Linked DNA regions of Homo sapiens: region 2 is reported to be linked to region 1. Evidence: microRNA targets listed by miRTarBase, many of them from high-throughput screens and not tested one by one. Region 1 holds a microRNA gene; the other region holds the end of a gene's coding sequence.
What was found. Region 1 holds the annotated microRNA hsa-miR-934 (UGUCUACUACUGGAGACACUGG, at 1,070-1,091, shown strand). A microRNA usually pairs through its seed, bases 2 to 8, with sites in the 3' UTR of a target mRNA and lowers its output. Matches are read on the target gene's strand: a 7mer-m8 pairs with bases 2 to 8, a 7mer-A1 pairs with bases 2 to 7 and ends in A, and an 8mer does both.

Region 2: the mRNA of TIPRL is a reported target of hsa-miR-934. Seed matches in the 3' UTR shown: 8mer at 2,190-2,197.

Annotation. Positions count from the first base shown.
Region 1 is chrX:136,549,823-136,553,244 of GRCh38, forward strand. MIR934 (microRNA 934) reads left to right here and starts at 1,056; the gene lies at 1,056-1,138. It overlaps VGLL1 (vestigial like family member 1), which reads left to right. Exons shown (of 5, transcript NM_016267.4): 4 at 946-999.
Region 2 is chr1:168,199,422-168,202,843 of GRCh38, forward strand. TIPRL (TOR signaling pathway regulator) reads left to right here. Exons shown (of 7, transcript NM_152902.5): 7 at 482-2,688. The coding sequence ends at 625. Among named protein-coding and RNA genes, the nearest start is that of TIPRL, 22 kb to the left of the region's middle.

The DNA of each region.
Region 1 (3,422 bases):
AATATGAAACACTTATAAATATATATTTTATAGTTTCATGGAACCAAGTCTGCATCCTCTGCCATTCTGTACTCTGGACGAATTTTCTTTTGCAGCTTCCTTGTCCATACATAGTGTGGTTCTAGTGTTCCATGCCTGAAAGAAATTACTAGAAGCCATCTTTACACTGAACTAAGCATATAGTAAACAAAAGGCCTGTTCAGCATAGCCTACCTAAGTCAGGCACTGTGTTCTATTCTAATGTGGAAAACAAATTTCCCATTAAAATACCACTCTGTCATTTCCAGAATTTGATTAGGAATGTACTTAAGGAGTAAATCATAGAAGTGTCATGTTTGGGAAACCTGTGAAATTTCCTACCCCTCTACTCTTTTTCAAAAGTCCTTTCCTACTGGATTCACAGGGAAAATTAGGCCAACTGTGCTTGTATATATGCCTGTGCATACACACAGCAAAGCCCTGTTTCGACAGTAGGTTAGAACACAGATGGCTGAAATCATCACCTTCCAAACTTAGCAACTCTTTACAGTTCAAGTCCAATTCAGCAAATATTTAGTGAGCATCTACTGTAAGCAAGGCACATCATGGTGAAACTAATGCAGGCATTGTCCTATTCCTGAAATCTCAAGACACATTCACAAACAAATGGTTATCACCAAGGTCTTCATGCTCTACTCATGTTGACATGAGTTGTATTAATTGGTGACTGGAAGTCCAGGATCTGTTGAGGAAGTCAGTGACCCTTAATCAGGAACACTGCCTTGGAAGGTGGTGGACCTTTAAAACAGAAGCTTCTCAGTTTTTGTAGCATCTGATATGAGAGAATATGCTAGATATTCATAAACTTAGGGCCAGGCAATGTGGGGCCCCTGGAATGCTACTGGGCACTCTCTAACCTAGTCCTAGAAATTTCAGTTCCAATAATGTTTTCTTCTTCTTTTCTAGATAAGAAACTATATGTATCTCGTGGATCTGCCAGTACCAGCCTTCCAAATGAAAGTAGGTATCTGGGCCAGCCTTTGATGGTGTGTGTCTGTATCCTGAGAACGAACTTGAGAAATAAGGCTTCTGTCTACTACTGGAGACACTGGTAGTATAAAACCCAGAGTCTCCAGTAATGGACGGGAGCCTTATTTCTATCACTCAGTGTTTTCATAGATAGAATTTGTTTCATTTTAGCCTCAAAAAAGAGTATATGCACTTCCTATCTTGTAAAATTTTATTTTGCTATAGAAGAAACTCTCCTTAGTTTCTTTTTTCTTTTCTTTCTTTCTTTTTTTTTTAACCTGAGTTTGACTTAACTGAAGTAGCCAAGGTGACTCAGAAAAATTAAGAAATTCATGAGGATGAGGATTAGCTTGCTATGTCCCAGATGTTCAGTTTTCAGCCTAGTATTCTTTTATTTATTTCTTTTTTTTTAACCTGAGCTGGACTTAACTGAAATAGCCAAGGTGACCCAGAAAAATTAAGAAATTCATGAGGATGAGGATTAGCTTGCTGTGTCCCAGATGTTCAGTTTTCAGCCTAGTACATAGGGCCACCCCAGGACTCTGCAGTCAGTGAAAATGTCAACTGAGGCATGAGGCCAGGACTCTGAGCTCCACACTCAATTTGAAAGTGGTGTCAGTGGGAACTTACAAAAGAGGACAATCTGGGTGGAATGACAGGAGGATCTTCATGACCTGGGTTCAGGGTCAATTGCCAGCTTTATTATTTACTTGCTTCAGGAACCTGGTCACATTTCTTAACCACTTCATGCCCCAGTTGCTTCATTTTTGTCAAATAAGCATAAAATAGTGCCCACCTCATTGGGTGAGGTGTGAGGAGTAAATGAAATAATGTATACCAATGCTTAGAATAATGGCTGGCACATTACTCTAAGCGTTGGCATACATTAAACCATCAAGAATTCTTTTTGGAGGGCATCCTGTGTTCCCCAAGCTGTGCTCTGTGTGCTGTGTTTAAGAGAGGACTCAAGCTGGGTGTGGTGCCTCACACATGTAATCCCAGCACTTTGTGAGGCCAAGGCGGGAGGAACACTTGAGCCCAGGAGTTAGAGACTAGCCTGGGCAACATAGCAAGACCCTCATCTCCATAAAAAATAAAAATAGAGAGGATCCAAAGGAAGAGCCACTACCACAGCCCCTGATCTCAGGCATTTGACAGTCTGGTGTGAAGTAGGGGTGAGGGCAATCTATAGACCCCACTAGAATGTCAACCCCATGAGGACTGAGACTTTGAGAGGTATACCACTGTATCCCTAGCACCTTGCACAGTGGTATACAAATTTGTTGAATAAATGAATGAGTGAATGCTGGAAACAATAAAAGAGCATTTAACAAGGAAACAGTAAGAAAATGTAGTAATGTAGTAAAAATTATTCCAATGTAGTAAAAATTATTCTGTTTGATGCCTTCGTGTGAGAGACAAACAAAACAAAAACCAACCCTGGTGATTAATTGGCCATGCCTCCATGAGGAGATTCATTTAGAGCTGGTTCAAAAGCCTTAGCATAGCCAAGGCAGGCATCACATAAGTCCCTGCCCAAGGAAATGAGTTCTGCTGGCCTTCTAACTTATGAAAGGCAAGGATTGTGGTGTTTCCTGAGTACTTGTTAATAGTTTCTACATTTGTTTATTGTGAGTCTCAGAATTACTGATAACTTGATGCTTAAAATTGTTCATAGACTAAAACTAACAGCAACAACAACATGTATTGGGTGTTGACTATGAGCCACATACCACATACTCCATCTTGCTTAGTCCCCACCATGACCTTGTGAGGTGTATGTGAATATGTCCTAGGTGCTTTACTCAACCGATATTCAGTAAATAGTGATTGAATGAATGAATATCCCCATTTTATAGATGAAGAAACTGGATCTCAAAAAGGTGAAAGGACTTGCCTTAAATCACACAGCAGCAAGTGGCAGATGCAGTATTATCTCCTTGCTCTCACAGTGTCATAAAATTATCAGAAACAATTCCAAGTTAAATCAAGTATACAACAGTGAAAATTAGTCACTGGTGAGATTATTTTACCACACATGAGTTCACTGTCTATCTGGGACCAGGGCACTATCCTAAAATAAAGGAAGGGGGATGCAGAAGGCTCAGAAAGCAAGCAAAAGAGCAAAGAAAAATATACCTTTGGGAAAGAAGGTGGGGGATGTTCTTTCCTTGCAGAGAGTAGTTGAGGAAAGGTGGCTATGCCAACAGGCCCAAGTCTGCCTTTCTAACACTGTGGCCCTGGGCAGAGGGAGGTAACATGGAGCTGAGAGGAAGAGAAGGGACTTCCTAGGGCTCCAAGTAAAAGGACAATGGAACCCAGCAAAGCCCATGCTCTTAAGCATGACACCAGTCTCCCAATCTTGCCTGATGGTACGAACCACCTGGGGAGCTTGTTCACTGCCCAGATCCTGC
Region 2 (3,422 bases), not on the chromosome of region 1:
GAAGCCTTCCTTAGAACTTAGGATTCTATAATGGGTTGCTTAAAAATTGGTACCTTCCTATAAACTTGATTTTATTTTTTCACGCTTAGTATGTACTTCTGTCTGGGTATAGAGTATACTTGGAACAGAAAAGTTACTACTTAGATTCTATTGTAGACTACATGCTGTGCTCTAACCGAAGACTAGTGTTTTCAAGTTACAAAAGCAGGAGATACATAGGGTTGGATTAAGATGTATTAAATTCTTAGGACATTTGTGGGAACATTATAGATTATATAACCCTGTGATCTTTGATGAAATCATTCAGTAACAAAGTTGAATGATTCCGTATCAAGAAATACCTATTATTTTTAGGAGCACATATGCATATATTGCACCTGATTTTAAAATTTCCATGCTTTATGAATGCTTGAACCAAAACATTTGTAAAAAATTTCAGTACAGTAACTGAATATGCTAATATGATTTATGTATTTCCTAGCATGTTCCACCTTCCCTCTTCACGGAACCTAATGAAATATCCCAGTATTTACCAATAAAGGAAGCAGTTTGTGAGAAGCTAATATTTCCAGAAAGAATTGATCCTAACCCAGCAGACTCACAAAAAAGTACACAAGTGGAATAAAATGTGATACAACATATACTCACTATGGAATCTGACTGGACACCTTGGCTATTTGTAAGGGGTTATTTTTATTATGAGAATTAATTGCCTTGTTTATGTACAGATTTTCTGTAGCCTTAAAGGAAAAAAAAATAAAGATCGTTACAGGCAGGTTTCACTCAACTGCTGTTTGTACTGTCTGTCTTCACATTCATATTCCAGATTTATATTTTCTGGAGTTAAATTTGGATGATTTCTAAATTATCACAAAGTGGGACCTCAGCAGTAGTGATGTGTGTGTCTCATGAGCAGTGAGCACAGTCTGCATTCATCATGAAACACTATCTTCTACCAGGAGGAGGTTAATGTAAATCACCAAATCCCAATGCCTTGTGACTTTCATAGGATTCCTGATCATGCATGTTGATGTACTGGCTCTTCACTTTGGGCTTTCTGATGTTTATTCACACCTTTGGAGAGTTGCAACTTGCCACATACGAAATTAGTCTCATAGTGTAGTGAACTTCAACCCCAAAATTTTAAAAATGTATTTCCCCCCAGTTTTAAATTGCCTTTGAAATTTAAAAAAAAAAAATTTAGACTTAGTACCAGAACCAAAAATACCTAGATTTTTGGAGAACTTATTACATACATAGAAACATGAATATGGTTTACCACTGTGTGTGTGTAGGATGTTAGAATTATCTGTCCTCCATCTTTAGGTGCTTTTTCTTAAATGTGGTTCTACTTATACTGATATTTTTAATTTCCATCTTCCATGCAACCTCAGAGTGAATAAACCCCTTAAATTTGGTGCTGGTTCGAAAAAGTCTAAAGGGTTTATTAGGGGTTGTTTTTCGCAAATATTACATCAATCCTTAAAGCAACAAGATTAATTTTCTGCTTAAAATATTTGGGAAGATAGGTAAGGAGGAGGGGGTTTTAAAATATAAAAGCAAGTTTTTCTATTTTAAGGTGCATATTTGTAACATTACAGGGGATGAAGTAAAATGTAATTAATTAGCACAAGACTTAGGGAGTACAGAAAATACACAGAAGTAAATTTCAAATCCATTTGATTGTTTTCATAGTGACCCCTTAGTCATTTTATATTCTTGTCTGCCTTTCTAGAAAAATGGTTGTCATAAAGTGGAAAGTGATTAAAAAGCATCAAATAAGAAATTATTTCAAGTGGATTTTTAAAAATATTTTTTTGAAGGGCAGGGGGAAAATTCACCCCTTTTCTGATTTGAAATATGTTGTACATATTTCCATTTGATGGATAAATCATTAAGTAAGAATATTTGATTTAAAGTATTAGCCAACCTCTTCAGGTATTAGCCTGAAGATAAATTTTAACAAAACATATACACTTGGGTATCCGTCATTGCTCAAACTCTATAGTGTATTGCTGGAGCCAATAGGCAGGGTATATTTTATTAGCTAAATTTGATATTTGTCTTCTGCCTTCTGTATCACCTCCAAGCTATAGGAAATCAGGATTTTGTTGGCTTTAAGAAAACACATGGTATGTTCACTGTATATTAAATATACCTGTATTTAATGTTTTCTCTTAGGACAGAAAAGTAGACACACACACACACACACACACACATGTTGTGTTCAGCTTTCTGTTTTATATTATTTGCCATTGAGATTAGAATAGAACAGGCTCTATTCATGCAAACTATATGAAATGAAAAACTTTTAAGACTCTTCATTAATTGGAGCTTCTGGGCAACATCGTGTGTGTGTGTGTGTGTGTGTGTGTGTGTGTGTGTATACAGACATTTTTTTTTTAACTTGTTGATTCAGATGTCTTGGTCCCTGAATAGTCCTAGATTACTTATTTTGAGAATTCATTGTTAAAAATTACAGGGAATTAAAATAATTGCCTTTTTTTTTTTTAGAGGGTAAGAGATGGGTAGAAGAGTATGCCTCTGAAAATTTTATTAGTTTATTCTTGTGGAGAATACCAAGAAAATGTGTATTTGCCCATTGCTAAATATGATATATGCCATTTTGTATTTATTTGTCCCAAGTGTCTTTTTGTAAGAGGAGAATAAACAATAAGGAATTACTGATCAAAGTTTTACTATTTCATTTATTTGAGTTTTTCTTAGAGCTTAATTAAAGAAGTGTGGTTTGGGGTATACTTTTCTTATTTGTGCTTTATGTTTTGAACTCAGTCAACACTGTAGACAGTCTCCAGGCAGGTTATAAATTAAAACCTAACTGATGGTTCAGAATACAATTTCCCAGTTTGCATTTGGGCTCTTGCCTCTCCTCTCCCTCTGTTCATCAATATTTCCATGGATGTTTTTTAACAGTATTTTCTGTATGTTGGGTTAATGTTTTTGGTTTTTGAAAATATGAATACCTGTCGTATGTATTAGTTTTGAGTACTATATGTACAATTATGGTGCTAGGTATAATAGATTACAACAATGAAGCGATGTAGTATATGTTTTTATAGGATTAAAGTCTAATGGAGGAGACAAAGTAAAAAAATTACTAATTTTAATATGTGCAGTGATGGAAATGATACTGACAAGAGAGTAACAGAAAATCAACTAACTTTAGTAGAGGTAGTCAGAGCTCTGCTTCTCAAGAAGATGTGGAAAACCTCAAGAGACTGTCATTCCCATTTTAACAAGGAGAAAAGGCTGGGTCATCTATAAAATTAAAGCTTTTTTTCTTGAACATATCAAAGAACTGAAATTACAAGGCAAACAAACCAAATCCCAAAGAGTGATAAGCCCTACAAGGAGAGATGGGACATACTGACTGTTTAACCTTAGGAAGAACCCAAGAGAAA